Linked DNA regions of Homo sapiens. The protein of the gene in region 1 interacts with the protein of each later gene in a biochemical or structural test. Each region holds a gene or a part of one and is shown on either strand. Other genes may lie near its edges.

Evidence for each region.
Region 2: the proteins of NFIX (region 1) and SOX10 form a complex in vitro, tested with the Homo sapiens proteins (one study listed by BioGRID).
Region 3: the proteins of NFIX (region 1) and SOX6 form a complex in vitro, tested with the Homo sapiens proteins (one study listed by BioGRID).
Region 4: the proteins of NFIX (region 1) and TLX2 form a complex in vitro, tested with the Homo sapiens proteins (one study listed by BioGRID).

What each region holds. Positions count from the first base shown.
Region 1 is NC_000019.10:12,998,245-13,005,499, forward strand, and holds part of NFIX (nuclear factor 1 X-type), read left to right. Parts: intron 1-7,255.
Region 2 is NC_000022.11:37,981,437-37,989,662, forward strand, and holds the start of SOX10 (transcription factor SOX-10), read right to left. Parts: upstream 3,120-8,226; 5' UTR 2,903-3,119; intron 2,433-2,902; 5' UTR 2,349-2,432; coding exon 1,921-2,348; intron 1-1,920. Other genes in the region: POLR2F (DNA-directed RNA polymerases I, II, and III subunit RPABC2), read left to right, coding at 4,718-4,876. UniProt on the Homo sapiens protein: Transcription factor that plays a central role in developing and mature glia.
Region 3 is NC_000011.10:16,346,463-16,353,717, forward strand, and holds part of SOX6 (transcription factor SOX-6), read right to left. Parts: intron 1-7,255. UniProt on the Homo sapiens protein: Transcription factor that plays a key role in several developmental processes, including neurogenesis, chondrocytes differentiation and cartilage formation.
Region 4 is NC_000002.12:74,510,039-74,517,472, forward strand, and holds TLX2 (T-cell leukemia homeobox protein 2), read left to right. Parts: upstream 1-4,411; 5' UTR 4,412-4,768; coding exon 4,769-5,168; intron 5,169-5,594; coding exon 5,595-5,832; intron 5,833-5,934; coding exon 5,935-6,151; 3' UTR 6,152-7,110; downstream 7,111-7,434. UniProt on the Homo sapiens protein: Transcription activator that binds DNA elements with the consensus sequence 5'-CGGTAATTGG-3'. Binds DNA via its homeobox. Required for normal cell death of enteric neurons in the gastrointestinal tract.

The DNA.
Region 1 (7,255 bases):
GGCCCCATCTCTGCTCCCCCCTCCACTGGCGTCTCGGACTCTCTCTCTCTCTGTCTCTCTGGCCTGCCTCTCTCTCTTTCCCTCTCTCTCTCTCCCTTTTCTTTTTTTCAAACCAGAATTGGCTTCGATTTTAAAGTCAATAAATGATTGAGCAGGAACGAGCTTGGAGCAGCGGGGCCCTGGCGGGGAAAGGTACTGTGGGCGAGGGGGAAGGGCGGGGGGAAAAATCTCCTTCTAGAAAAAGCATCGAAATTCAGGGCGGCCGGGTGGGGCGGTTCCTGGAGCTGCTGGAGTCCATTGTAGCCACAGTCCTGAGTCTCAGGCGGAGAGAGGGGTGGGGGGTGGATGGATGGACCCCCATCCCCATCCCAACCCTGCCAAGAAACAGAGACACAACCAGGATGTGAACTCACGTACACCACCATCACCGCCAAGATGGGGATGTAAGTGTCCTGTTCACACCGATGTCCAGACCCACGACCATCGACGAGCCTACAGACCTACGGACACAGGAAACCGACGACTTGTGTTCACACTGTCACACACACCCATTAACACACACGCACCTCTTGAAATGGGACACGTATATTGGTGTAGGCTTAGCGACACAGCAGTACCTCTTTGACGCACGTATGGACACAGGAAACTGTGGACTTGTGTTCACAACCACCCCCAGCGCACACATAAACACTCACAAACCCCTCGAGATGATACAGATAGCGACGAAGGCACATGGAGACCACGACACCTCCCAGACTCATGGAGCCCTGAGCACATGCTTGGATACAGGTAGACACAAATGTGTGTTCACCCCCACACATGCTCACATGGACCCAAGGACGGACAGGCGGATGGATGGATACACATCTTTACACAGAGACATAATGCAGTTGGCTCGCTCAGGTGTGTACACAAATAACTTTTCTTTTTCTATTTTTTTTTTTTTTGAGACGGAGCCTTGCTCTGTCGCCCAGGTTGGAGTGCAGTGGCGTGATCTCGGCTCACTGTAACCTCTGCCTCCCGGGTTCAAGCAATTCTCTGCCTCAGCTTCCCGAGTAGCTGGGATTACAGGTGCCCGCCACCACGCCCGGGTAATTTCTGTATTTTTTAGTGAAGATGGGGTTTCACCATCTTGGCCCGGCTGGTCTTGAACTTCTGACCTCGTGATCCACCTGCCTCGGCCTCCCAAAGTGCTGGGATTACAGGCATGAGCCACTGCACCCGGCCACAAATACCTTTTCAAACACACACACACACACACACACACACACAAATATGCACCAATGCGTGCTTCCCCCTCCTTGCCACAGGGATAAAAAGGCAAACATGCCGACATTTGCTGACACACACAAAGACATACATGGCCGCACACACGGATACACCCGCTCTCAGACACGCAGCGACCTACGCCCATTTTCCTGGCCATACAAGCAGCCGAACGTTCCTGTACTTCTGTATCTGCATAGCTCCCCCAACACTCCTTCCATGGGAGGGGGATGGCTGGGGCTTCCCTGATGCCCCCTTCCCCCAGCTTTCTCTCTGGGTCACTCTGGCCACCCCTCTGTCCCTGCGAAGCTATAGCTCTCTGTCCCTGCTCCGGCCTGGTGCCCTGTTTTCATGGCACTTGGCATTTTCTCTCCGGCTCTGGCCCTGCCTGATTCATGCCCACTGCTGGGGTGGGAGGTGTGCCCAGGTGTGGGCCGGGATGGGGTAGCTCATGAGATGAGCTGGGGCTCCGTGAGATGTTTTGATGCTGGGCCGAGCTCAGAGCCGAGGGCTCTGCCGGGAACAGGGTGCTCCAGTCTCTCTAGGGCCTGGAATGTCTTGTGTAGCCTCAAGAGCTCCCAGACGGAGGCTGCGGGAGCGGAGTCAAGGGCTAGGCTTTGCCGTCAGACAGAAATGGGTTCGAGCTCCAGCTCTACATGTTCTAATCTTGCGACCTGAAGCACAGGATTTTCCTGGCCTGTAAAATGGGCAAAAACCAGTGTCTATCTCTTGGGCTGTACTTAGGTTCAATGTGGTGCCTGGCACATAGTGTGTGCTCCATAAATGGTAATTGTTGCCAATTGTTGGTTGTCAACCTCCCAGACCCTCCCAGCTGAGAGAGGGATGCCTCTGAGGGGTAGAAGACAGGATCGAGCACCTCCCAACCATAGATATCCAAGTGGACTGCCTGGAGGAGGAGGAGGCAAGAGGAGAGTTTGGAAGGATGAGAGTTTGCACATGGCCCAGCTCTTTTACCTTTGGATGGGGGCCTGTAGGCCAAGCAGAGGGTGGCACAACTTCAAGATAGGGGAGAGATGGTGGGGGAGAGTGGGGGGCAGGAGGGGAGAGACGAGGCCTCCACTGTTCCATGAGGACCAGATACCCTGGTTGGGGGCCCTGAGTCCTGGTATAAGAGTATGTGTGCACGCATTCATCCAAATGTATGTGGGACAAAGAGACCCGGTGCATCTAGATGATGACTTCAGGGACGTCCCCAAGCTCCAGAACTTTCTGTGTCTGCACCTGGGCGTTGTCACCTGGACCCGCCATGGAGACAGGACATATGTGCAGGACCCTATGGTGGGCACTTGGCTGGATCAGGGCACATTGCGGGTGGGAGCAATGCTGGGTGTTTGGCCGTGGCGCCGTGGCTGTGGGCAAAATGCCCCCGTGGTTGGTGTGTTGACTGCCGTCCTCCCCATCTAACCCACAGGGAGCCTGGCCTTTTAAATCTGCTGAGATATTGTCTCCCCCACCCCCATGAAGCTGGAATCTGGGGACTTGCTGGACCAGAGAGGTAGGGGAGGCTGGGCACTTTCTCCAACACGGTGCTGAGAATGGGCCTTCTGTCCCCTCCCTCCCAGCTGGGGTGGGGAAAAGGAGGGGGGTGTCTTAATTTTCTTGCCCCCAAAGCCCTGGATGTGGGGGCAAGTGGGCCAGGAGGACAGCTGTGAGCCACTATCTGGGTTCTCCCAGATCGGTGTGCATGTTAATCGGCATGTCAGGCCTCAGAGCCACCATTTTCCCGAGGATGTCTGTGTGGCAGCGTGTGTCTGCCCGGGTCCCTCTCCATGCCTCTCCATGTCTCCCAGCGTCCATCACTGGGTGCTACCTGCATGTGACTCCACGGATCATCGCACGCCCTGTCTCTTGTGTATTTGGTAGTGGGGGTCGGGGAGCGTGCCACCATGCGTGTCAGTGTGCCGGATGTAGTCTCTGTGTCACGGTGGCGCTGCGCACGTCAACGGGTATTGGTGTACCGGTCACCATCTTTGTATCTGCGCTTTGTATCTGGGGTGACAGTGTCCCAGCGACATGCGTCACATCTACAGCAGTGTTTTTCTGGGTGTCTGTGCGTCACGGCAAAGAGTGTATCCGTGTGTCTCACACACGTGTTGGCCTGTCCGTGTCAACTTGTGTCCACATACGTGTCAACGCACGTGTCTCCAGTGTCATCACCCTCATATCACTGTGCCTCCTGAGCTTGTCCCCGTGACAATCACTGTGGGTCTCACCCCACGGGCGCCTCTCCTGGGCATTCCCTTGGCCTCCGAGCACCATGTGAGATGCCTGCTATGGCGGCCGGGCAAGCGGCTGGGAGCGGGCTGGCTGCTCAGTCCCTTCCCATGAGGTTGAGCGGCCGCAGTGGCCTTGCTGGGGGCCCCGCCCGTGCCCCTGGCCTGGCGTGGACAGAAGCCCGTTGTGCGGCAGCGAGGTGCGGGCGTGTGTTCGGGCCGCCCACAGGCCTCCCTCTGTCTGCCCGGCGCACATTGATCTTGGCTTCTGCCTGTGTCCGTTCTAGCCTGGCCAGCTGGGTGTCCGGCTGTCTCCGTGGGCCTGAGCCCACTATCCCCGCTGCCCCCACAGCCAGGCAGGCCCTGGGCCCCACACCCCTGGGCCACCCGCCATCCCTCCGAGGCTCTGAGGGCGCGGATTTGGAAACTGAGGTCCCCCCTTCTTTCCCCCTTTCTCTCTCTCTCTTTCCTCCCTCTCTCCTCCCCTCCTCCCCTCCTCCCGCTCCCTCTCTCCCTCTCTCTCTCCTCCTGCCAAACGCGTCTTGGCTCCGTCTGAATATCTCTCCTCCTCGATTTTTGGCTCCAGCTCTGGGCGCGTTCACTAAAGGAAGAAGGGCTAGCTCCCCAACCCCCCCTTCCTCACCACCTCCCCCCTCCCGAGGAGCCCCTCTGAGGGCGGGAGTGGCCTCGTGCAGGGGCCTGGGCCCCCTGAGTGGGCTTGGCCAGGGGGGCACAGGCCTGGCGGGTGAGGGAACAGGGTGGACAGGGCCTGGCAGCCAGAGGGAGGCAATGGGCAGGGTGACTGAGCTGCCCGGCGGGGCGGGCGGGCAGGGAGGGGTCGGGGGCACGGAGCTGGGGTGTCTGGCTTCTGGTGGGGCTGGCAGGCCTCTGTGAGGCGCAGCTGTGCCCAGAACTCCAAGTTGCGTTTGCCACCACTACCGATGTGGCTGCGCCAGCCAGGGAGGGGAGGCGGGTAGCGGGCACTGCGGCGCTCTGCAGCCAATCGGAAGCCGGGGTTGCACTGGGGAGCTCTCCCCCCACTGGGCCCCACCCTGAGGGGAGCCGGGGGTGGTGGCCAGCAGTGGGCAGGGGGCAGTGCCCACCACCATCGCCAAGGACCCTGCCCCCTCAGCTGAAGCTCAGTGCCAGCCTTCCTGGCACAGATCGGGCAAGAGCGGGGATCTGTCTGTCCCCACCTGAATCTGTGTGAGCCAAGCTGGAGGAAAGGACAGCATGGAGGTGCACCCGACCCCCCTGGGCCTTTTAGTCCAAGGCAGGCAGGAGCTAGGGATGGGTTCCAAATTATCCAGGTGGTTCCGTCCAAATATCGGCTTCGGTCGAATCATCTTGGGGAGTTGGGGGGGGGTTTATTCCGGGTCCATCTCACACAAAGTCACACACTCTCACTGGCACATGCGGGCACAAAGAATCACGCTGACACACACTGGCATGCTGCACCTCCCTCAATCAAACAGACACAGGCGTCCCCATACAAAGAATCTTGCCCTCACTCACAGACACCTTGAGGCACCCGGCCACACCCGAACACATCGATGCGGCATTACACACTCAGGGACGTGCATGTGGGTGCAGACACACGGGACACGCGCAGTCACACGATCACATGCCATGAAGCACACAGCACAGACACAGGCTCTGCCACCGTCAAATGCAGCCCCACAGGCACAGCTAGAAACACACAGCACACACACTCAGTCATAATGTCAGTGCCCAAAACACACACATGAGCACCGATACACCCGCACATGCCACCAAGCACACAGGTACATGCACATGCATGCAATAACACGCTCTCAGACACACAAAACACCCCACACACTCCCTAACCCAGTGTCACCCACCAGGAGTGATTTCACCCATTGGGAAATGTCTGGAAACATTTTTTTTTTTTAGAGACAGACTGTCATCTGTAGCCCAGGCTGGAGCACAGTGGTGCGATCTCGGCTCACTGCAGCCCTGACCTCCCAAGCTCAAACGATCTACCCATCTCAGCCTCCTGAGTAGCAGGGAATACAGGTGCATGCCACCACACCTGGCTAATTTTTAAATTTTTTTGTAGAGACAGAGTCTGGTTATGTTGCCCAGGCTGGTCTTGAATTCCTGGGCTCAAGCAGTTCTCCCGCTTCACCCTCCCAAGTAGCTGGGACTACAGCCGAGCACCACCATACCCAGCTAATTTTTAAATTTTTAGTAAAGATGAAGTCTGGCTTTGTTGCCCAGGCTGGTTTTGAATTCCTGGGCTCAGGTGATCCTCCCGCCTCGGCCTCCCAAGGTGCTGGGAGCCATGAGCCACCATGCCCAACCTGGAATCATTTTTGGTTGTCACACTTGTGGAGGGGGTGCTATTTAGTGAGTGGAGACCCAGGATGCTGCTCAGTCCCCTACAATGGAACCCCTCAACCCTCGCCGACCACAAAGAATGATCCAGCCCCAAATGTCAGTAGTGCCAAGGTTGGAAACCCTGCCATGCATCCCCAGATACACAGTAACACACACAGGCACAGCTAACCCTTGACACTCATTACACATGCACCCACATACACAGTCACACCCAAACAAGACGCCAGCTGACAGTGTCACACACACACACTCTCCCTCACTAGGACCCAGGCATTGTCGCATATATACCCCATTTCCCCTGCCAAACCCAGGCACAGTCGGCGTGCCATGTACACAGTCCAGTGTTACCCCAGCACACAGGGACGAGAGCCACACCCCCACACATATTCGCACCTGGGCCACACCTGGCAGTGGTTGGAAATGGTGCCTGAGAGCTGAGACCTGCCCTGGTGGCACCTCCCCTCTGCTTGTCAGCCACAACCAGCTGTCTTTGCGCAGCAGCTACAGCCACCCCAGCTTCTCAGGATAGAATTGGGAGCCCCAAATCCCTGCCCTGGTTTGTAGAAGCCTGGGGTGAGACAAAGCCTGGAAAAACCACATGCCCATCCCTGCCCAGGACACTCGCAGTCTTCTAGACTCCGTGGTCGAGGGCTCCACCCTCACCTCCTTGCTCCTGGCAGCCACCGAGAGAAGGGATGGGGACAAAGCTAGGTTCTTTTTTTTTTTTTTTTTAAACAGTCTCACTCTGTTGCCCAGGCTAGAGTGTAGTGGTGCAATCTCAGCTCACTGCAACCTTGGCCTCCCAGGCTCAAGCAATTCTCATGCCTCAGCCTCCCGAGTAGCTGGGATTACAGATGTGCACTATCACACCTGGCTAATTTTTGTATTTTTAGTAGAGACAGGGTTTCTCCATGTTGGCCAGACTGGTCTCAAACTCCTGGCCTCAAGTGATCCGCCCGCCTCGGCCTCCCAAAGTGCTGGGATTACAGGCGTGAGCCACTGTGCCTGGCCAACAAAGCTAAGTTCTGAGACTCCTGTCCTCCGTGGGGCTGTCTCACTAATCCTTTGGCCTTTGACTCCCCAGTTCTGACCCCAGAGAAAGAAGAGACAGCGGTCAGCAGAATGGTAGAAGAAGATAGGATAATAGCAAAATAAATGTTTGTCCTAAAAATCGTAGCAACAGCTAATGTGAACTGTGTGCTTGCTGCGTTGCACCCTTGCTAAGTGCCTTCCCAGCTTGTCTTCTTGAATCCTGTGTTCAGCAGGTACTGTTATTAGGAGAGTGGGGCCTGCAGAGCCAGCTTCCTGGGTTTGACTCCTGGCTCTGCCACTCACTAGCTGTGTAACTTCAGGCAAGTTGCTTAACCTCTCTGGGTCTCAATTTCTGTATCTAG
Region 2 (8,226 bases), on another chromosome or scaffold:
TCAGGCTGGCCCCTGTGCACACAGCTTGAGTGATGGCCAAGAATAAGTCCTCCTGAAGGGAGTCCAAGCCCAGGGTTCTGGGCTGGGGGAACCTGGGGACAGGGACAATGGAGGAGCCAATCTTAAACCCTTGGCAATGGGAGATGGAGGGAAAATGAGGTCCGTCCTTGCTTTGACTCTCGTTGGGCTCGTACTGTGGTCTTCTCATGGTCCCCAGAGTCTGCCCTATCTGTATGTCTCTCCTGGTTGTCTGTTTCTCACTTGCTCTTTGTCCCCTGGCACTAAAGATACTGGCCTGGGCCAAGCCCCACCCAGATCTGGATGGACCTTGGGTGGAGGAGCTAGCTGTGACCTCTGCTCTTGGGCAGAACTGGGCTGTCTGGGTCCACACAGCGGGCTGGTCGCTGAGCCCTGGGCCTGCCCTGGGTGAGCAGGGCACTGAGGGCTGAGAAGGGGCAGGGGAAGGGGCACCAGGTCTTCAGCAAACACATGGCAAGAACAGGCCAGGGGGCGGGATGTGAATCTTTTGGTCTCTTGGAGATCCTCCTGCACCTTCTACCACTCTAAGCCTCTAGACCCAATCTCTACCCAACTGTGGCTGGCAAGGGGGAGGGCAGCGGAAGAGAGCCGGGCTCCTCTGACAAAGCCCTAATTTTCTGGAACCCAGATGCTCCTCACTCTTGTTCTCATCTTCTTGCTTCCCCCCAACCTCCTGACCACTCCTCAAAGTGTAGGTGATCCACCACTGTCACCAGGGTCAGGGGAAGTCCTCTGGACAGAGAGTATGGGAGTCCTGGGTTCTGGCCCTGGCTCTGCTACCAACTTCTATGTGACCTTTGTGATTCCTTTGCCTTTCTGGGCCTGTCTCTTGGTCAGTCTAGCGAGAATCAGGTGACTGCTACCGGCTCACATCTCCTGGAGTCCCTGGTCTCTTTCAGAGCTGCTCTGGCACTCCCGGGTGGGAGTGGGGGACTGTCTTGTTCCACACATCCCCAGGAGGCCTGGCTGAACCCCAGACCTGAGTCGAGGGTGGGATAATTGCTCCCTGCGGGGGATGTTTTTCCTAGAGGTGTGGGCTGGTCCCAGGGAACCTGGGACTCTGAGGGCCCCTGGGCAGGAAGGAGGCCAAGGTTTCCTTCTGGCCAGAGTGCTCAGCTCCAGCTCTGGGGCAGTGGGGAAGAGGTTGCTCAACGTTGGGGTGGGGCCCTGGCAGGGAAGATGGCGCCGAACTGGGAGAGGGAGGAAAGAGATCAGCTTGGTGACTCTGGGGCAGGGCAGGAGGGGGAGCCCCTTACTGTGTGTCCTCTCCCTAGGAGGATGAAGAAGCCCCCAACTCAAAGGAGGGTGGCGTCAGAAAGTCCCAGGGAAGAGCCCTAGGATAGGATGAGGTCCCGCAGCAGCAGATTTGTCCCGCAGTTCTTCATCCCTCACTCTTCCAAAGACTCTCATCTGAATTCCGTTTTCTTTAAACCTCCCCTGAGTTCTCCATCTGACTGCCTCAGTTTCCCTGAATCTCCAGCCAACCCTTTGGTTCTTTCCAAGCGTTTCCCTCGTATCCTCCTGACCACAGCAGCTGGTGGCATAGTGTGCGTATCTGTGGGCAGGAGTTAGTGAAGGCCTCCTTCCCTCCCTCCAAAGCCCCAGGCCCCACGGTCTGCCACCCGCAAAATTCCAACCACGAGGGGGCGCCTTCCTGCCCGCCGCCCCGTAGGGAGACCCGGCCTAGGCCGCTGGAGTTCCGAGTTCCAGGGTCCTTGTGATGGAAGGGCGGGCGCGGCCCCCACACCTGGTCTTCCAGCCCTATCCAAGGAGGACTGCCAGACAGTCCCGCTCTGAGGTGCAGGAGGCCGGGCCGCCTCGGCTACCCTGAATCCACCCGAAGCTAGAGGGCCCGAGCCCGGGGGGCGGTCGGGTGCTCACCTCCAGAGCTTGCCCAGCGTCTTGCTGAGCTCAGCGTTGTGCAGGTGCGGGTACTGGTCCGCGAGCTTCCTGCGCGCTGCCTGAGCCCACACCATGAAGGCGTTCATGGGCCGCTTGACGTGCGGCTTGCTTTTGCTGGCGCCGTTGACGCGCACGGGCATGGGCACCAGCGTCCAGTCGTAGCCGCTGAGCACCTGGCTGACGGCCTCGCGGATGCACACGGGGAACTTGTCATCGTCCGCCTCGCCGTCCTGCTGCTCCTTCTTGACCTTGCCCAGCTCGCCTGGCCCCGGGCTGGCTCGCAGGCCCGATCCGCCGCCGCCGCCGTCGGGCCCTAGCGAGGGCGCGCTCCCCGGGGACAGGCAGCGGGGCTCCTCCGAGCCCACGGGGCTCAGCTCCACCTCCGATAGGTCCTGCTCCTCCGCCATGTCGCCCCCGGCCGCCGCCGCCGCCGCCTCGGCCGCCTCCCCCGGGCCAGCCGCCGGGGTCCTCGCAAAGAGTCCAACGCCCACCTGGATGGAAGGAGGGCGCGATGGAGCGGCCGCGCGCGCAGCCCCGAGGGCGGCCCGAGACAGGACGTGGGCACAGCCCCGAGGTGGCGGCCCTTCCTGCTCCAGCTAAACCCATCTGGCCCCTGGGGCCCACGCACATGCCAGACTCTAGGTGGGTGCGTCCCGCCTCTGTGTCTTCCCACCACCTGGTCCCAACCGTCTCTTGGTGTGGGTGGCTTTTTTTTTAGCCTCCTTTTTTGGGTGGAGGTTTGTTGATGATAAGGAAGAAAAAAACGGAGCCTTTATTTTGCTCTAATCCCGGCCCCTGGAATTTCCCACCTTTTCTCTCACCTTTCCTTCTTCCCTCAGCCTGCCCCAACGGGGTTTAGAGGAGAGCCAGGTGGGGGGCAAGGGCGGGGTGTCGCCTCTCTCCACCTCACAGCAGGGTCCCAGGCCTGGGCGGGCCAGGGAGGAGCAGGCTGCGCACTCACCTCCTCGGACCTCTCCTCCAGTCTGGGGCTCGTCCTTAGGAAGTGGAAAACCGTGTCCCAAGGTGTGCGGTCCAGCTCGGGGCTGGGAGGTGACGCTGGTGGGCTGGGAGGGAGGGGCGGGGGGCCCTGAGCCTCAGGCCACGGCCTCGTTAGGACGGAGCCTGAATCCTTACCACCAACCACCCTGGCCGGACAGCCCGAGACTGACTGAGCGACTGAGCCTGAGCCGCTGCGGAGGGCTGGGGAAGGAAGGAGGGGGAGAGGGGGGAGGGGAGAGGAGGGAGGGAAGGGCAGAAGGTGGAGCCTCCAGGCTTTCCTTCATCCCCAACACTCAGGGCTCCTCCACCCGGAGCCCAGGCCCCCCCACCCAGCTCCCTGCCCTACTGCCCAGGCCCATCTTGCTGAGGCTTATCTTGGGCTTAGTCTGGGAGGTGGAGGGGAGGTTAGGCCGAGGAAGGAAGAGATGTAGGCTGGAGGGTCAGAACCTGTTGGATGGAAGAAAATTGGGCCCAACCAGGACTCCTAACGTCTGCCTCAGGTGGCAGGATGGGCACTTGGCAGGGGACTAGGGAGAGACGTGAAGGCGGTGAGGGTCCTGGGGGCCCGTGAGGGTGGCTGGCCCTAGCTGCTTCGTCTGCGAAATCCTGTTGAGTGCCTAGTGTGTGCCAGGCACTGATGCCCAGCTCCTCACCCTGCCTCCTACCTTTTCCCAGGCAGCCCTTTCTGCCCCATCCTGCACAGTAAGAGAGACTTCTCAGGGATCCCTCTGAGAAGTGCAGAGCCCCAGCTTGACCCCTGGTCCCTTCTCTGCAGACACCCAGCACACGCGCGTTCTGGTCTGGTTCAAGGTGGAAACACAAGACTAAAGCTGCCAGGAGGCCAAGGTGGGACAGGTTGGGGGCCCTCTCTCAGTAGGTCTTAGAGGCATTTTGGGTTGCTACCTACTGGGACCCAGCTCCTTCCACACTGGGCTCACCCTGTCTTGGGAGAGGGTAGGGGAGTCCTAGTCCTGATTGTCACGAAGTCCTCTACTCCCCCACCCCAACAAGGGGTGGGGACTTGCCCTGCCTCTTCCCTCCTCTGCCCACCTCTCCCTCCCTCCCCTTTTCTTTCCTGCCCATCCTCCGTTGACACCTTTTTCTCTCTCTTTCCTTGGCCTCTCCTCCAAAGGTCGCAGTGCTGTTCTCTTAACTGAGGGCAGCCCCGCCGGGGTGTTGAGGCCGAGGTGGGGTGTATGTGGGTTATGTAATGGAGCTGGGGTCGCATTGGCAACCATGTGACGTTCTGAGCTCCTCAACAGCAGGGCAAAGCCCCAAGACCACCCCAAGGGGTCCTGTCTGGAGTGGGCTGCAAAGGGTCTGGGGAGGCAAGGCCTCATGCTTGGGAAAGTCCAAAGGGGTGTAGGGGGTGGGAAATGGGACACAATGAGGTAGTCACACGAGGCAGAGGCATGTTGGGGGTGGGGGGAGCAGACACTGGAACACACACACACACACACACACACACACACACACATGCTCACACACACAACCAGCCAGACAATCGGGCCAGTGTGTCTGGGGCCTCGGAGCCCAGTGAATTAGGAGTTTGATAAGGGTTTTCTCTTTCTCTCGCTTGCTGGCCTTGGACAATCTCCCCCCAGTTTTCCTCGACGCCACCCCCGGCGCTGCCAACCCTCCTCCCCCCGCCTCCCTTCTCTTCCCTGTGCCCAGACTCTTGTTCGGGGCCTTGAAACAGTGAGCTGTCTTTGTTCGAAATACAGGTGAACGGCAATCATGTGATTAACACACACACACATAAAAAGCTTTTTAACAGCGCCCGCTCGGCCTCAGAACCGCCCGGAGAGGAGCCGCCCTGGATGGACAGAGGGACGAGGGACGAGCATCTGCCGTCGTGTCCCGGCTGCCCTGCAGTCGCCTCCAACACCCGCTGCTGCCCGCCCGCTGCCTGCCTGCCTGGCATCTCTCTCTCCCGGTGGGTCCCCACTCATCCTTCCACCCCTCAGTTCCTCCTCTTTGAGGAAAGGACCTCCCCGCTCTCTGCTGTGTCTGTGACTGGCCTGAGACCCGCCTGGGGCAGGAGGGGTGGTTGTGGAAGGAAAGAGCCCAGAGTTAGGAGGTGGAATGTGGGGTCCCACAGCTGCCCCCTCTCTAACTCCCTGCTTCCTCCTTTGCCCTCCTTGGTCCAGCTGTGCCAGGATGGGGGTGGGGGTAGCAGTGGGCACGCTCTGTCTGCAGGAAGCCACGCTAGACAGAAGGGGCCACTCCCTCTCTCTCTCCCTTGTCCCCGCACAGACACTGCCTTCCTCTCAGGGCTGTGCTGGGCTTTTTGCTGAGCAGTGTTGGGTGAGGCAGGTGGGCCTGCAGGGCGGGTGGGAAGGGCTGTCAGATGACCAGTGCTGTGTGTGTGTGGTTGGGGCCCCTGCTGCGAACACATCCCTGCCCACCATGCTGGCAACTGGGATCCCCTCCATCCCATCCCAGGCCCTGGGAACCCAGTGCTCTCCAGCAGGCAAGGGTGAAGGACCCATAGTCATTCCTGAAGAGCAGGGAGCTTGGAGAGGGGAGGGATCCTGGCTGAAGACACCTGGGCCTCTGCCCCAGCAGGACAACAGGAGGGCCAGTGTCACCTTCTCCTCCTTTCCCTGCTGGGGGTGGCAGGGGTCCCTTTACCCCCTCATTCTTGACCCTTCTCCAGGGATGCTTGTGACCTCCTTACCCCACCCCCCATCACCTCTCTGTCCTGAAGTGAGGGTTTGTCACCGTCCATGGCAAGGTGTGGTGTCTGGTAGGCTCTATGACCTGCCTTCTCTCAGGGTGTTTATTCTGCAGCAGAGAGGGGTCTGCGGTCTGAGTGTAATGGTGGAAATCCAGGCTTCCTTCCATGGCCCAAGGAGGCCTTTCCGGAGCAACAGGGTTTTCCTGGGACTCAGCCTGGCTTTTGTTAAGGCAGGTCCCGGATTTACTCAGAAGATGGGCCCCAGAGAGGAGGAGAGGAAAGGAATACCTGTCAGTCAAACGTGAAGCCCACTGATGACACTGCCTGGCAGAGCTGCCTCCGGTCAGCAGTGACCCTTCACCCCCCAGCTCCCAAGTCCTCTTCCTGAGGGAGCTGGTCCGGCTTTATGGAAGGCTCCGCCTGTGTTCCCCCACTGGGTCCCTGGTCCCTCACCTGTCACGTGGGGCGATGGTCACCCTCCCTCCCTGCCTGCCCTGAAGGATACACTGAGATGAAGGTCAGGAAATCTGCTGGCTGCAGAACCAGGGGCCATGCAGGAGTGAGGGATGGTCTGGTCAAGTTGAGGCTCTGCCCCAGCCTCAGTTTCCCCACACAGGCATGAGACTGTCTTCCTGACTTTCAGAGGACAGGGCTGAGATGGGATGAGGGAACACAGGGAAAGCGTTTAGCACCTCTGAGTGCTGTGTGGATGCGACCTGGGGGGTCCTGGCCTCCACTCTTTAATTCTATCTGGACTGTGTGCCCTCCTACCTCCAGTTTCCCTGCGGGGGCCTTTCACAGGGCCTGGCTTGCGGATACGGGGTTTGGCGTAGGGCAGTGCTTCTCAAATGGGAAGGCGCACTGGGATTCTTCAGGTTGGGGTGGGGCCTGAGGTTCTGCATTTCTAATCAGTTGCCTAGGACTGGCTCTAATTCTTGTTGAATTTACAATCACTTGTGGAGTTAAGAAAAACATACTGGGCCTTGGTTGGGTGTGGTGGCTCACACCTGTAATCCCAGCACTTTGGGAGGCCAAGGTGGGCAGATCATGAGGTCGAGAGATTGAGACCATCCTGGCCAACATGGTGAAACCTTGTCTCTACTAAAAAAAAAAAAAAAAAAAAATTAGCTGGGCATGGTGGCAGGCGCCTGTAATCCCAGCTACTTGGGAGGCTGAGGCAGGAGAATCACTTGAACCCGGGAGGTGGAGGTTGCAGTGAGCTGAGATTGCACCATTGCACTCCAGCCTGGGCAAAAAGAGCGAAACTCTGTCTCAAAAAAAAAAAAAAAAAGAAAAAAAGAAAAACATACTGAGCCAGGCGTGGTGACTCATTCCTGTAAGCCCAGCACTTTGGGAGGCCGAGGCGGGCAGATCACCTGAGGGCAGGAGTTCGAGACCAGCCTGGCCAACATGGTGAAACCCCATGTCTACTAAAAATACAAAAATTAACTGGGCATGGTGGCACGCACCTGTAATCCCAGCTACGTGGGAGCCTGAGGCAGGAGAATCACTTGAACTCAAGAGGCAGAGGTTGCAGTGAGCCGAGATCGCACCACTGCACTGCAGCCTGGGTGACAGAGTAAGACTCTGTCTCATAAAAACAAACAACAACAACAACAAAAAAACATACTGGAGCCTAGATCCCACCCCAGACTGGTTGATTCTGAATTTCTGGGGCTGAGGTACAAGCATAAAGTTCCCTGGGAGGTCTTCACAGAGTCTCTGGATCCCTGAGGCTGTGAATGACCCCCTTCCAGAGCCAAAATCACCAGGGATGGAGGAGGGGTCTTGGGTACTGGACCCACCAGCCAGGCAGGTTATACTGGGGTATCCGGAGAGCTTTGGGGTGTGGCAGGGGAGGGCCTATGCACTGGGAAGGTGGAGGGCCGACGGGCACAGGTTAGTGGTCGAGGGCAGCATAGTGACAGACAGAAGCTACCCTGTGGGTCTTCAGCCGAGTCTGAGTGCGCTGGGGTGGCTGTGGGAGCTCCCCTGAGCATTTTCTAGGCCACCTCCACCTTTGGATAAGGCTGTGTCATCCTCAGTCTCGGATGTAGTGGAAAGTGACTTGAAGTCAAGAAATCCTGCCACTAGTACCCAAGGGGCCTTAGGCAGATCACGCTATTAACCTCTCAGGACTCGGCTTTTGCATATGTACGATGTTGATAATCTTATGCACCCTTGATATCCCCAAGTGATGAGAGAATTAAATAAGAATACACACACACATCTCCCCTACCTAGCATAGTGACTGCTCAATAAATGTGAGTCAGAGGAAATCATTTAGCTATTAGGCCAGCACTGGGAGGTGTGGAGGATGCTCACCTCAGGTCAAGTGCACAAGTATTAACCGAGCAGCCACCACGGCCTCACAGTCAGGAGTTTATCATTTGCCTTTTGAATCCTAATGTCAGACCAGGTGGCATTCCTGCTTGGGATGACAAGCTCCTCTGTCATGGGTGGGCCTCCTCTGCCATGCCCCTTAACAGCGAAGGCGACACTCTAGGGCCTCCCCAGGTGCCGGCTCAGCTGTGAGGGCTCCTGTCATCGGACTTCATCCTCCCAACAACCCTCTGAGTAGATGCTATTATTCTCATTTTAGGGAG
Region 3 (7,255 bases), on another chromosome or scaffold:
TTTTAAAACATTCCTCAATTCATTCCAGTAAAGTCGGAAGGTGCTTACTAATTATTTGTATTACTTTATACAACACCACCACCTCCTCTCCCCCAATCCACCTCCAAACTTCCCTCTGCTTCTGCCAGATTTTTCTATTTCTTCCATTAAGTAATTAAGAAAATTCAGGTGAAAAGAAGGTAACTGTTTTCAGAATTACCTTGGAAAGTTATAAACCTATCTTCTAGAGTTTGTAGCAGCACTTTCAGAACAGATATGGTAACACATGAGGACAGTAACTATTAGAAGAAAACTCACTGATTAGAATTAGCTGTCAAATCAATGGAGATGAGGTAAATGAAATACATTTGAAGCCCTTGAAGTGTGTCTAAGAAAGTGCTTAAATTAATGGATTCTGACTTTTCTAAGGGTCCAATTTTTCACAGCAAAGCACCAAAATTGTCTCCAAAGGCCCTCTGAGCTTCTTACAAAACAAGAACTACCTGGAACAGATTCTTCTTAAGTCATCAAAGTTTGTGTTTCTAGAGTTTATATTTAGCTGACAATATTGCTGTCACTTTATGTAGCTTAAGACTGTTCTTTGGACTAGAGCTCATATGTCTTGGAATGCTTTGACTCATGAATTGTTTCTCCTGATAATGTTACATCACGTAACTACCTCTGTCTAATTGGTTAGTATCTGCTGGAAGAGACAGGCAGCCAGCCTAATGACTGGCCTGCTGACTGACTGCCTATGGAAAACCTATAATTATTAAGTGTCCCTGAGTATCTGGTTTCTTCCTGGGATCAAAACAACTTGACTTCATGTAACCTCTATCTATACTTTTTGCTTGATATAAATAATATGGTCTTCTCACAGTTTATCTACCAATAACTTTTTGGAATTTTTGCTTTGGAAAGCCAGGCCCAGATTTTATAAATAAATTCAGTGACTTAACAATAAGAGTAAAACCTAACAATGGCTACTATAAATATACACTAACTTAGAGGATTTTAATCTAGCACAATGACTTTATAGCTCAACGAAAGACCTCTGTGTGGCTGGAGTGAAAGAAAGCTGTCTAAAATAATAGCAGAATGAATTTATTTATGTAAGTTCACTTTGAATTTCCTCTTCATATAAAATGAGAACTACAATTTTTTAAGTGAATAAACAGACATCTCTCTGTCAGCGTGAAACTGGCCCATTAATATGGAAGCCCAAGTACAGGATATCTTATCCAATTATATTAATAAAAATCATAAACCAGAACAATAACTTCTCAGAGACAAAGTGTAGGAAATTGTCACTGTATACTTTTCCATCCTTAACTCGAATTTCCCTCTTCAATATTTCCAGAAAAAAAGAGAAAAATGAATATTGATACTTTAGATTGTTTCAAAATATGAAAATTCACACAAACACTGAACAAATTTATATAAAGAAACTAATCTCTGAGGTCCTCCTTTAGCTAAATAAGGCAATCTACCAAGTCCACTCTTTCATGTGATGAAATAAGGTATAAGTTTCAGGTTCCTATTCAAAGACAGACAAGAAGAAGAGAAAGAAGAGGGAGGGAGGAAGGGAGTGAGAGTAGAAAGGGAGGGGAAGAGGAGGGGAAAAGGGGAGAAGGTAAAAGGGGAGGAGAAAAACAACCATGGCTTTGCAGTTCATTTTCAGTTTGTCTACTTAATGAAAACCTCATTGTACAAGCCTGAAAATCATTTCCAGCAGGCAAAGTACTTCTGATTCAGCAGAGGTTACACAAGCATCAAAGCAGTTAAATATAGGTGCCAAGCTGCATTGCCAGGAGCTCTTAGTACTGTGAGTTAGTGTTACCTGACAGCTTAGTGAATATAAAATTACTTGTTTCTCCAATTGAAGACAATCAAATTGTCACCTTCCATTGTAATAATGCACAACTAGTGATCAGCAAAGTGCAAACATAATTACCATGAAGAAAACAAAATATCAAATCTAAATTTTTCAACAGAGGAAACACATCTATCTTCTTCCCCAAAAAAGGAGTGCATTTTAATCCTGAAGGCTATGATGCAATCTTCATGTTATTTAATAATAAGATTTATTCATCTTAAATTAAATAAAAATGAAAAACAACAAGAAATACTAATTCATAAAAAGTGACTACAAATATTAATAAGAGCACTACAACTTTCCAGACATTTCCAAGCACAAAGACCTACAAATTATATCACTGCCATTTGAACCTATATCATTAAAGGGTATGTCAGCGCATTTTCCATTATAAAAACTTTGTTTTTAGAGATGTCTTTCTAGCCTAGCAACCTTCCTGAAGGTTGAAAAGGACAGGCAGGATTCAACTTCAAAAGCTTTTGTCTTAATTTTTCTTTAACAGAGAGTTACGCTTCGTTTTCGTCTTCTAAAGTAGCTTATATTTTTGATGCTGAAAATTCATCTCATGAAAGTGATTTAATATCTCTACACAAGTTTAGAAAAATAACCAAGCATAGGACACATATCCACAACTGTTTTTCAGACACTCAGCATCTAGAATTCTCATCCAAATTTGGTGACCATATTGGCTCACTACCAAAGTGATCTCAGTAACCTGAAGCTAAATTAATATTAAAGGACTGAAAATTTGACATGGTTCTCCCGCACTCCAAAGATTCCTAAGATACAAATTAAAATGAATATAATTAATATAGATAATGCTCCAAACAAACTGCATTTTAAAAGCTCTCTTAGAAAAGTGATTTTATTTCATAACTAACTCAAGATTTAAGACATTCAAATTTATATCATTCCTTCTAATACAGCAAAAACTCTAATCATTCTCCAAATACTCTAAATATAGGGGCTTTTTCCATCAATAATGTCATTTTTATCAGAAAATATGTCCTACAGCTAGGCCTGCTGAGGTGGCTCATGCCTGTAATCCCAGCACTTTGGGAAGCTAAGGCAGGTGGATCACTTGAGGTCAGGAGTTTGAGACCAGCCTGGCCAACAAGGTGAAACCTGTCTCTACTAAAAATATGAAAATTAGCCACCCATGGCGGTGCGCGCCTGTAATCCCAGCTCTGCAGGAAGTTGAGGCAGGAGAATTGCTTGAACCTGGGAGGTGGAGGTTGCAGTGAGCCAAGAGCGTGCCATTGCACTCTAGCCTGGGTGACAGAGCAAGGCTCTGTCAAAAAAATAAATAAATAAATAAGAAGAGGAAAGAAAACAGAAGAAAGAGAGGGAGGGAGGGAGGAAGGAAGGAAGGAAGGAAGGAAGGAAGGAAGGAAGGAAGAAGGAAGGAAGGAAGGAAGGAAGGAAGGAAGGAAGGAAGGAAGGGAAGGAAGGGAAAGCAAGCAAGAAAGAAAATATTTCCTACAGCTAATGCCTGATATGCCTGACATTCCATTTTTACCATATGCCTGATATGCCATTTTACCAATATTTCCTACAGCTAATGCCTGATATTCCCATTTTAACCATTTCATTTTTGAAATATTTCCTATAGCTAATGCCTGATATGCCTAATATTCCATTCCAATTTTAGAACAGATACTTCTGTTCTAAATAACATCATTTATGATCATTTAACACAAAAATAGACCAGTTTAGCAAAAAAGGGGGAGGCACTGACTACACCAGGGTGACAGTGAAATGAATTGAGGCTCATCAAGAGCATAGGCTCTCCTGAGCTTGAATCTTAGAATACAAATCCAGACATTAGAATAATGCTTTCATCTGGTATCAGTCTCAACTGGTGTTCCTCAGTCTTGCATTGTGTTCCTCTTTCTCCATTCCTCTATTTTATTACGAAGGAGTAGAGGAAAGAATGAGATGAAGACATTGGTTGAACATCGGTGGCTAAATCAGAAGGAAAACAAGGATAGCAAGCGACAGGAGAAAGGGGAAGTCCAGTCTCTAGCTGCACGTTTTATTTTGATTTGAGATAAACTTAACATCATTAAGAGAAGTGTCTGGGTGTAAGAAATAAGACGGTTTTAGAAAAACATCTTTTTCCTTGTTCTTAGAACTTTCAAATAATATAATACAATTTTTTCCAAGAGACACTTCTTATAAGCTCAGCACAATAAAAACCTCCCAGGCAAAGGGGATTGCAATCAGTATTTCCTAAACTTCGATGATGAGTAATTTAATCAATTCCTGAAATTATACTCCTACAGAGTATTTATTACAATATACTAAAATAAAAAGTATCAACGAGAGGAAGAAAAGGAAACTTCTTGTCAGAGAACATCTTTCAGACCCTGGGAGATAAATGCTTACATAGCATAAGCTCATGGTAAATGGGTAAAAGGAGAACTCATTAAAATATTTTGTTTAATTAAAAAACAAGTTAATTCTGTATATTTCATGAGGACAGGGATCATCTGTCTTGTTCATTGCTGGATCCCCAGTGCCCAGCACAGTGCACAACACATCGTAGACAATCAATACTATGGGAATGAGGGAGGAAAAGGCAGAGAGGGAGAGATAGGCAAATAGCTTATTGTTTTAAATTAAAGTGAATAGATAATCACAGAAAATACCACTCCATGTTAATACTGCCAATCTAAACATTATTATTTCTCTATACTGTTTTTATCAAGCATCTCATTAAGTCATAAGATTATTATATCCATATCCCCAACACTAAACTCTCTCATCTCCCAGAAATCCAACAGTCCTCAAATGACTGTTAAGTATTTATACCAAGATATGCTCTGCAATTTCATATTAAACACCTTAAAACTAGATTCATCACTATTTTCCTCAATACCTCCCCTCATTCATCCACACCCAGAAGAGTACCACTGTCAGAATCATCAAGGTTCAAAACATGAACACTCTATCCACCTCCTCATTTTTATCCTTGCTTCTCAATGCCAGCCAGTCATGAAGCTCCATCAGCTATTCTTTAATGTTTCTTATGCTCATCTCTCTTACCATACTTATAATCACCTTAGCACAGGGCTTTTTCACACCTCATACCTAAACTCTTACAACAGACCCTAAACTACTTTCTCTATTTTAGTATCTCCTCCACCAAATCAATCTTAACTGCTACTCCCTTCATCAAGCCACTCTCCTGATCAAAAAACATCAGTGGCTCTCCCCTGATGACAAAATAAAGTCCAAACTCCTGACCCTGGCACTTGAGGCCCTCCATCCAGATACAACCAATCTTTATACATTTATCTTCACCAGTCAAACTTCACTTATTGTTGCCTCCTAGCCTTTGCTCTGCCTGTCTCTCCCTATTTTCCTCACTTTCCTTTCTTAGTGTTAGGAAACCAACTGAGACTATTCCAGTTAACTACGATCTACCCCTCTTCTAAACACCTCTAATAAGATCTGTGAGAAATTACTTTTTATATCACTCATTCAACACTTAATGGATATTACCTCACATAATCTTTTAAAAATGTATAATATCATTATATTTTCTAAGTAACCCCAACCGCATTACAAACTTCTCAAGGGTGAGAACAAAATCCTAGCTTTCTCTGCATTCCCACAATACCTAGAACAATGTTTTGTGAAAAGAAACACTCAGTAAATACTTCCCAATTATTTAAATATTATTGAATTAATAGGCAGAAATAAATTTAGGGTGTTATCTTCAACCAGAAAAAAGTAGCCATGAAAAAGGACTTAAAATAAACTGGTTTCTGGGGGTGTCTCCTCTTTGCACACACTCTGGACAATAAATTCACCTCATATTTTAAAAGTTCTGCATATTCCCTGGCAAAGAAAGCCTCCCAAAATAATCAATTTATGTTGTCAGAAACATAAAAAAAGATGGATAAATGAATGAACCAATGGGCAGATGATGGATGGATGGATGGATGGATGGATGGATGGATGGATGGATGGATGGAAGGATGGATGGATGTTGAAGAGATGGTTGAAAAGATACATAGATAATTTTTACTAGATGCTTAGAAAGTACCAGGCAGGCACTGTGCTAAGCACTGCTACATGTATTATTTCATTTAGTTCTTAGAGCAACTCTAGAAGTTAAATAATGTCATTATCCCTGTTTACTGATAAGAAAGCCAAGGCACAAAACTGTTTATTAAAACAATAAAAATGAAAACTTGCTTAAGGTCATACCTAGTAAATACAGAGGGCAAAATTTCAACTCAGGTTGGTCTAATGCCAGGGCAGATGCTATTAGAATTAAAAGTGTCTGAAATCTAAATTAAATAAATTATTAACTATTTTCAATTATTATCTGAATTATTCTTTACTAATTTATACCATTCCTGTAGAATTTTATTTTGAATATTCTGGTTAGATATTCTAAATACTCATTTAATCAGAGCTTAGTAAAAGGATTTGCTATCTTTTTCTTTTCTGTGTACTTCTACAGTTTGAGATATGTAATTACTAGTTAACAACTTTAAAAAAGAGAGAGAAACATAGAGCAGGTAATTCTCTAACCAATCCTTTTAACTGTCATTCTGGGCAATTTGACAACAAAATTGGTTGAGGAAGTAGTTAAAGCTACTGACACACAAGGCTGAGAGGTTCACTGCAGTTTTTACACAGTAATTTTCTAACAAATATTTGTTGGTTGTTAACTATCCATGCTTTTCCTAGCATGCTATTTCTGGTTAGCCTAGATGATCAACATTTAATTATATTCTTACACAGACAATTATGAAATAAAATAAGAATGTCACTGCCCGTTTATTTCAAGGCCCAGAGAAATATGAGATCCAATTTCTACCTTCCATCTCTGACCAGAGAAACCACACCAGCTATATCAGACAAAACTGGAGCTGCCTCACTACAAAAGTCGGTGTTGAGAACAGCCTTGAGAGAAAACAAGATGAGGAGCTTGAACAATATGTATTTAACACACTACCCGTCTAGAGCTGATTTCAGGGAATGCAGAGTAATTTAGATACCCTCTTAAAATATGACTACTATATAACATTACATATATCCTAACTTCTGAGGAAAAGAAATAGAAAAGCCTCTCATATGAGGACATGAATTCTTATAAATTATAATTGTCTGTGAAAGCTGAAGAAAGGTTTTTACCACCAACCCAAATTTCCACATTTTTTTATACACACCAAACAGTCTGGTTTCACAAATAACTAAAGTGCTGCTATCTTGTATTTCTCCCTCTGTACTTCCACCACCTCCTCCCTTTCTTATAGCTATTTGCTTTAAATTTCTCACTTGCATTTGCTGGAATTATCATAAACAGCTCCAGGAGAACATGAGAATCCAATTGTTTCCATGAATCATTGCACAGAATTGTTTGAGTTATCATTATAAAAG
Region 4 (7,434 bases), on another chromosome or scaffold:
TATCTGGCTGGATATGAGAGTTGGGACTTTTGGAATGGGTGAAACTTGAGCAGATGAAGAGATAAAGAAAGCTTAAGGCCTGGTGCAGTGGCTAATGCCTGTAATTCCAGCACTTTGGGAGGCTGAGGCAGGTGGATACTTGAGCCCAGGAGTTGGAGACCAGCCTGGGCAACATGGTGGGACTCCGTCACTACAAAAAGTACAAAAATTAGCCTGGCATGGTGGCGCATACCTGTAGTCCCAGCTACTTGGGAGGCTGAGTTAGGAAGATTGCTCGAGCCTGGGAGGTTGAGGCAGCAGTGAACCGTGATAATGCTACTGCACTCCAGCCTGAGCGACAGAGTGAGATCCCATGTCTTAAAAAAAAAAAAAAAAGAAAAGAAAAAAGAAAGCTTAAGTCTGAGCTCTGAAGAATCCTCACAGTCTTCAGTGGAAGAAGGAAAATCAGTGGAGGAAAAACATAAGCAGTGACTACGAAAGTCCAAAGATGTGGAATAAGATATTACAGAAGCAAAAAGAAGGGACACTTCAAAAAATAATTGATGACCAACAAAGTAAAACATGCCAGGGAAGTCCTGGAGGAGGGATACTGAACACTGGAGCTCTCTGAGAAAGGGTTACTATAATGAAGGCAGCTTGCACTGAGTTAAAACAAGAATAAATCATGATGAAATGGAGGCAGTAGGCATGAAGTAAAAAGGAAAGGAAAAGCATGATCTCTCTTGAAGACTCAGGCAAAGATTTTGTCCAGATGATAAAGATCTGAGACAGCTGAGGGGTAGGAAAGACTAAGTTGATGAGAGCCACGGACACACAGGACATGGTGAGACAGATCCAAAGCAGTGTGTATGAGGGGGCACTCATTCCAGCACCTCTATCTTCGTCTTTTTTTTTTTTTTTTTTTTTTGAGATGGAGTCTCGCTTTGTCACCCAGGCTAGAGTGCAGTGGCGCGATCTCGGCTCACTGCCAGCTCCGCCTCCCGGGTTCACGCCATTCTCCTGCCTCAGCATCCCGAGTAGCTGGGACTACGGGTGCCCGCCACCAAGCCCGGCTAATTTTTTGTAGTTTTAGTAGACACGGGGTTTCACCGTGTCAGCCAGGATGGTCTCAATCTGCTGACCTCGTGATCCACCCACCTAGGCCTCCCAAAGTGCTAGGATTACAGGCATGAGCCACCGCGCCTAGCCAATCTTGAATATAAACCAGCAGGAACCATCCTTTCCCCGTGAATCAGAGACAAGGAGGCAAGAAAGGACATTTCAAGCCAGGTTGGGGTGGTGGTGCACACCTGTAACTCTAGATACTCAGGGGGTCAAAGTGGGAGGATTGTCTGAGCCCAGGAGTTTGAGGCCAGCCAGCCAGCCTGGGCATCATAGCGAGACTCTGTCTCTTAAAAAAAGAGAAAGTCCTAGGACTGTGGTCTGGGTGACGTAACTGGATGCCATCTGTTCTTGAAGTGGGGCACTAAAATATTTTAAAAACTCTCCAGAACACTTGTATGAACTACTGAGTTTGTGACCATTCTCCTTAAAGGATTAGTTGGACAGTCCCTGGGTGGCAGTACCATCTGTGCTGAACTCAAACGGCAGGGGTGTACGGGTCTGCATGATGTTGCCTTTTTTTCATTTGTTGATTCACTCACTGATTCATTCAAGGAGGATTTATTTAGGTTGGCTGGAGACACACTGGTTACCCTGCCCCCCTGCCCCCAGACTCAACCTTCAGAGCAGAGAATGGGACTAGCAAACTCCTAACCTGCACACCAGCCCTCTTCAGAGATTATATTTCTTTGCTGTCTCCCTAGGTTTCCTGCTCCCATCTGGAGGAATCCAGCCCTTGGTACCAAGGAAGTTTTTTTTGTTGTTGTTTGTTTGTTTGTTTTTTTTGAGATGGAGTCTTGCTCTGTTTCCCCAGACTGGAATGCAGTGGTGATCTCCGCTCACTGAAACCTCTGCCTCCCTGGTTCAAGTGATTCTCCTGCCTCAGCCTCCCCAGTAGCTGAGATTACAGGCACCTGCCAACATGCCCAGCTAATTTTTTTGTATTTTTAATAGAGACGGGGTTTCACCATGTTGGCCAGGCTGGTCTTGAACTCCTGACATCAGGTGATCCGTCCCCTCTTGGCATTCCAAAGTGGTGGGATTACAGGCATGAGCCACTGCTCCCGGCCTGAAGATTTGGACTAAACAGGTTCATGCTTCCTTGTAGCCCTCTCTACTGCTGAGAAAAGTGCATGGGTTTCTGTAAAGAGACGGGAGGTGATAATGTCTGTCTTCTCCATCAAGATGAAAATACATCTGCTAAATTGGTAGGAGCCCCCACCCTCTTTCAGAACGGGCTGTTAGCAGGGCTGAGGAGGGGCTGGACAAATTGGATAGTAGAGTGGTCAAGGTGGGGGAGGTTGACACTTTTTTTTTTTTTTCAGACAGAGTCTTGCTGTGTTGCCCAGGCTGGAGTGCAGTGGCGCGATCTCGGCTCACTGCAAGCTCCACCTCCCGGGTTCATGCCATTCTCCTGCCTCAGCCTCCCAAGTAGCTGGGACTACAGGCACCCGCCACCACGCCCAGCTAATTTTTGTATTTTTAGTAGAGATGGGTTTCACCGTGTTAGCCAGGATGGTCTCAATCTCCTGACCTCGTGATCCACCCGCCTCGGCCTCCCAAAGTGCTGGTATTACAGGCGTGAGCCACCGCGCCTGGCAGGTTGACACATATTAATGCCCACTATTCCTCCCACTGCCCTCTGTCCCATTTATGGTTCACCTCCTCTAGATATAAGGCTTCAGAGAACACTGAAGGGCTGGTGGACAGAGCTCACCCTTCTTTCTCTTCTTTATCTTTCTGCCCAGATGCCCAAATATCATTCCTGGTTCCCAGGGGAGAAAAGACCCCTTCACCCTGCCCCAGGCGCCAGGCTGCCAGCCCATCTGCTGGGGAGAAAGGAGGGGGCAGAGTCTTTCCCAGGGGATCCTGGAGAATCAGTTTGAAGATCAGTGCTCCCAGGGAGATCCAGCTAGTAGACTTACAAAGCATTTCGGTTCACACGGGAACCAGCAGGATGGAGCTGAACAGCGGGGTGGGCTCGGGACGAGGGTAGAGGGCTGGCACAGCAGGGTAAGGTCCTTTGGCCACCACGTGTCAGAGGTAGGCTGAGCTGCTCGTTGGTGCCCACCCGCCACCGCCACCGCAGGATGGTAGAAGCGCCCCCCTCTCTGAGCCCAGTCTCACCGGCTCAGAGGCGCCAGGGCCCCCCCGGGGGCCGGGGCGGGCCGGGGAAGGTAATGTAATTCCGGCCCAGCTAACCCGATTACCGCGGCCTGCACCGGGCAGGGCGGCGGCGGGGGCGGGTCTAAGGCTCAGGGGCCCGCCCGCGGGGGTCCCATCCCCGGGAAGGACGCAGAGTTCACGCACTCCCGGCTCCTGGATTCATGGCCAGAGGTCACAAGGTCACCAAGCGGCTTAGGTCTTTCCCCACCTCCCTTCTCTGACAGCTCCAGGCCATTTTTTGAGTTTGGGTGGGGTAAAATGTTTATGGGAAACAAGGCGGCCAGGATCCAACCAAGGCCTCAGTGAGGTCCCACGTGTCCCCCGTGGCGAGATTTCGCCCTCCCGCCGTTGAGGAGGAAGAGTGTGAGAACAGACTTCCTAGGCACAGAATGGAGGGGCAGAGTCCTGCATTGAGGACTCCCTGCACTTGGGGTCCGGGGGTAAGTGCCAGCCCCAAGAACCCGCCGGCCTGATTTGGCCCGGGTTGAGCCATGGTCCGTTTTACACGGATTTTGGAAAATCGAAATTCTAGGAAACACAGGACACCAATTACCGGTGCGCATGAACAGGGCTGGGGGGACCTACAGGAGAGGCCAGAAGGCGCACCACGATCGCCAGCCCAAAGCGGCCGTTCCCCGCCCTTAGCCCCTGCCGTCCCCTTCCCACACCTGTTCTCTTCCTGGGCCTGCAGCTCACCGGGCGCCGTTCCCCAGCCGCTTCTTACGCAGCCGGGAAACCACAACGAGATTTGGTCTTCGAGAGCATTTAGGCGGGGACCACAACGAATCCGGGAGTTGGCCAGAAGGATCCATCGAGAGGCGAAGAGTGGGGGCTGGGGGAGGAGGCACCTGCGGAGGAAGCCGGTGAGGCGGAGGCAGCCCAAAGGCGGAGGCCGCCCAAAGGCGGAGGCCAGCAAGGATGGAGGCGCGGTGAGCATCTCCGCTGACTCAGCGGCCCATGCTCGGGCCCCTCCCGCGCTGAGCCTGGCTCCTAACACCCTGGCCCCCTGTCCCCCTCCCCGCACATCTCCGCCAGCCAGCCTTCCCCCTGCGCTTGGCGCAAACAGGCGTCCCTTCCCCTTTAACTGCTGGGCCCCGCCCCTGCCCTACCCCCAGCCCCCACTACCCACCCGGGCCGATCCGTCAGTCACTGCCCCAGCCGGAGCTGGCCAACCCTCTCCACCCGGGACTTGGGCAGCGGCGCCGGCAGCCCAGCGTCTATTTGCGCTTAAGAGCCAGCAAGGAAGCTCCAGGGGCCCCAGCTGGCCGTGCTCCCCCGGGATGCAAGTCCCTGCGCTGACGCCCGGCAGCGGCTGGCACGGGCGCGGCTGCTCCGGGTGCACAGGGATGCTGCTGTTTCGGGGACCCCGGCGCCCTGCCTTGGCCAGCCCCGCGGGCCCCTGAGGCCACTCTCCGGAGCGCGCCGCCGCTGGGCTTCTGGCGCTGCCTGAGGCATCCTCCCCAACCACCGAACCTCCGGCGGTTCTCCTCGGCCCAGACCGATGGAGCCGGGGATGCTGGGTCCACACAACCTCCCACACCACGAGCCAATCAGCTTCGGCATCGATCAGATCCTGAGCGGCCCCGAAACCCCAGGGGGCGGTCTAGGCCTGGGTCGCGGGGGCCAGGGTCATGGGGAGAATGGGGCGTTCTCGGGTGGATACCACGGAGCCTCGGGCTACGGTCCCGCCGGCTCACTTGCCCCGCTGCCCGGCAGCTCCGGAGTGGGCCCAGGCGGCGTGATCCGCGTCCCTGCGCACCGCCCGCTGCCTGTGCCGCCGCCCGCTGGGGGGGCGCCTGCAGTGCCTGGGCCCTCGGGTTTGGGCGGCGCCGGAGGCCTAGCGGGACTCACCTTCCCCTGGATGGACAGCGGCCGCCGCTTTGCCAAGGACCGGCTCACGGGTGAGGTTGTCTGACCCCTCCAGCGTCACGCCCGACTCTGACCCCGTCTCCTCATTTCTTAGCTTTCTGCTCCAACTCAAGGACCCCTTTCACACCTCCCACTAGATCCTCCCAGGGGATCCTCCCCCAACTCAAATCTCTGGGTCCTGCCTCCGAGAGGTGATGGGGAGGGAGCTGCCGTCGGTGCCCGCGCCCTCCTCTGTAGTCCCACTGTCCACGCGTGGGGAGGGGAGGGTGAAGTTACAGGGGACGTCTCCCTCGCATCCCAGGGGAAGGGCCTTTCTTGGCTATAGGGCTCGGCTGATGCTTAGGGCCCGGGTAAGGACAGGGCGCGGGAGTTCTGCGGCCTGGACAGCCGCGCGGCCTTCTCAGTGGCACCTCGGGCCACCCTGCAAATCCTGCCCTGGTCTTTCTTCCTCCCGGTAGCTGCGCTCTCGCCCTTCTCTGGGACGCGCCGCATAGGCCACCCCTACCAAAACCGGACCCCTCCGAAGCGGAAGAAGCCGCGCACGTCCTTCTCCCGCTCACAGGTGCTGGAGTTGGAGCGGCGCTTCCTGCGCCAGAAGTACCTGGCCTCTGCGGAGAGGGCGGCGCTGGCCAAGGCCTTGCGCATGACCGACGCACAGGTCAAAACGTGGTTCCAGAACCGACGCACCAAGTGGCGGTGAGGCGCGGCGCGGGCGAGGGCGGACTGGGGTTCCCGAGCAGGGCCTGGTGAGAAGCGACGCGGCGGGCGCCCCGCTGACCCCGCGTCTCCCTCCCTTAGGCGCCAGACGGCGGAGGAGCGCGAGGCCGAGCGGCACCGCGCGGGCCGGCTGCTCCTGCATCTGCAGCAGGACGCGTTGCCACGGCCGCTGCGGCCGCCGCTGCCCCCGGACCCTCTCTGCCTGCACAACTCGTCGCTCTTCGCGCTGCAGAACCTGCAGCCCTGGGCCGAGGACAACAAAGTGGCTTCAGTGTCCGGGCTCGCCTCGGTGGTGTGAGCGACGCCCGTCCGATCGGCGTGGAGCGCCGGGCCCGGAGCGGTGGAGCGCGCGGCTGCCTGCGTCCATGGTCTAGTGGCAGCCGGGCGCGTGAGGAGCGGCAGGCCTTGAGGCTGTCGTCGAGGGCTCCTCCACCACCGGCCGGCTCCCAAGCCAGCGTTGCGCAGATGCACGGCCAGCTCAGAGGCGGCCTTTCCCGCCATTTTTCACTTCACTGCCGTTACGCCCTCGCTGGAACCTGAGGCGCCGAGAGGGCGGGACCTGCAGGACAGTAGCCAATGAGGTGCGGGGAGGGGGCCGGGCTGGCCAATGGGAGCTGCTTTCCTGAGGGACTCGAAATTCTCCGGCGGGTGGTCGGGAGCTGGGGCTCTGAGGGGCTCTAGCGGCGTTGCGCGCGGTGCCGGCTGGGTCTGTACCAAAGGTGTGAAGGAAAGAAGACACCGACCACGGCGAAGCAATAGAGGGGGTGCTGGAGCGCGAGAGGCTGGCTGATTGTGACCGAAACCAGAGGGTTGTCCACCCCGGGCATCTCATCCCTCAACTGTAAAATAATCGCTAAGGATTCCTTCCTGACTTTGAGCCTCACGTTGTCATGTGTGTTCAGCCTGCTGGCCACATCCTCCGGCAACACGCCCGGGCAGGAGGCGAGTCGGATACTTACACACCCAACGAAAGAGAAAATCTGGCTCCGGTGTCACATAGGGACAGAGAAGGGAGAGGAGGAAACAGTGGACAAAGTTAATGGGCCCAGTGGAGTTAGGGTGAAGAGAATTTGGAAAATAATTTGGAAGTGACAAGCTTAAGAAGAATCAAAGGTAATTCCAAGACTGGAAATGTGCAGCATCAGGAAATCAATGGTGCTGTGGATGATGAAAGGGAAATTGGGAAGACTGGAGCAAAATTAACTGTATAGGCAAAACTAAATGTTATACCTAGAGAGAATAAATCCTGGAGAAGTGCCTTTGAGGGAGATCAGCTGACATCCACATAGAGGTGGACCTAGATAGAATGAATGAGAACAGATAGAATCTCTGAGGGAGGGAACTCTTGAGGAGAAAAGCAGAGTTCTAAGGACTAAACCTTTCCACCAAATTCGACAACCACCTTTGCAATGTGCAAGATGATGGAGAATACCTAAGTCAATAGTCCAAGGGCAGGCAGGGCACGGTGGCTCACGCCTGTAATCCCAGCACTTTGGGCCGAGGCGGGAGGATCACAAGGTCAGGAGATCGAGACCATCCTGGCTAACACGGTGAAACCCTGTCTTGACTAAAAATACAAAA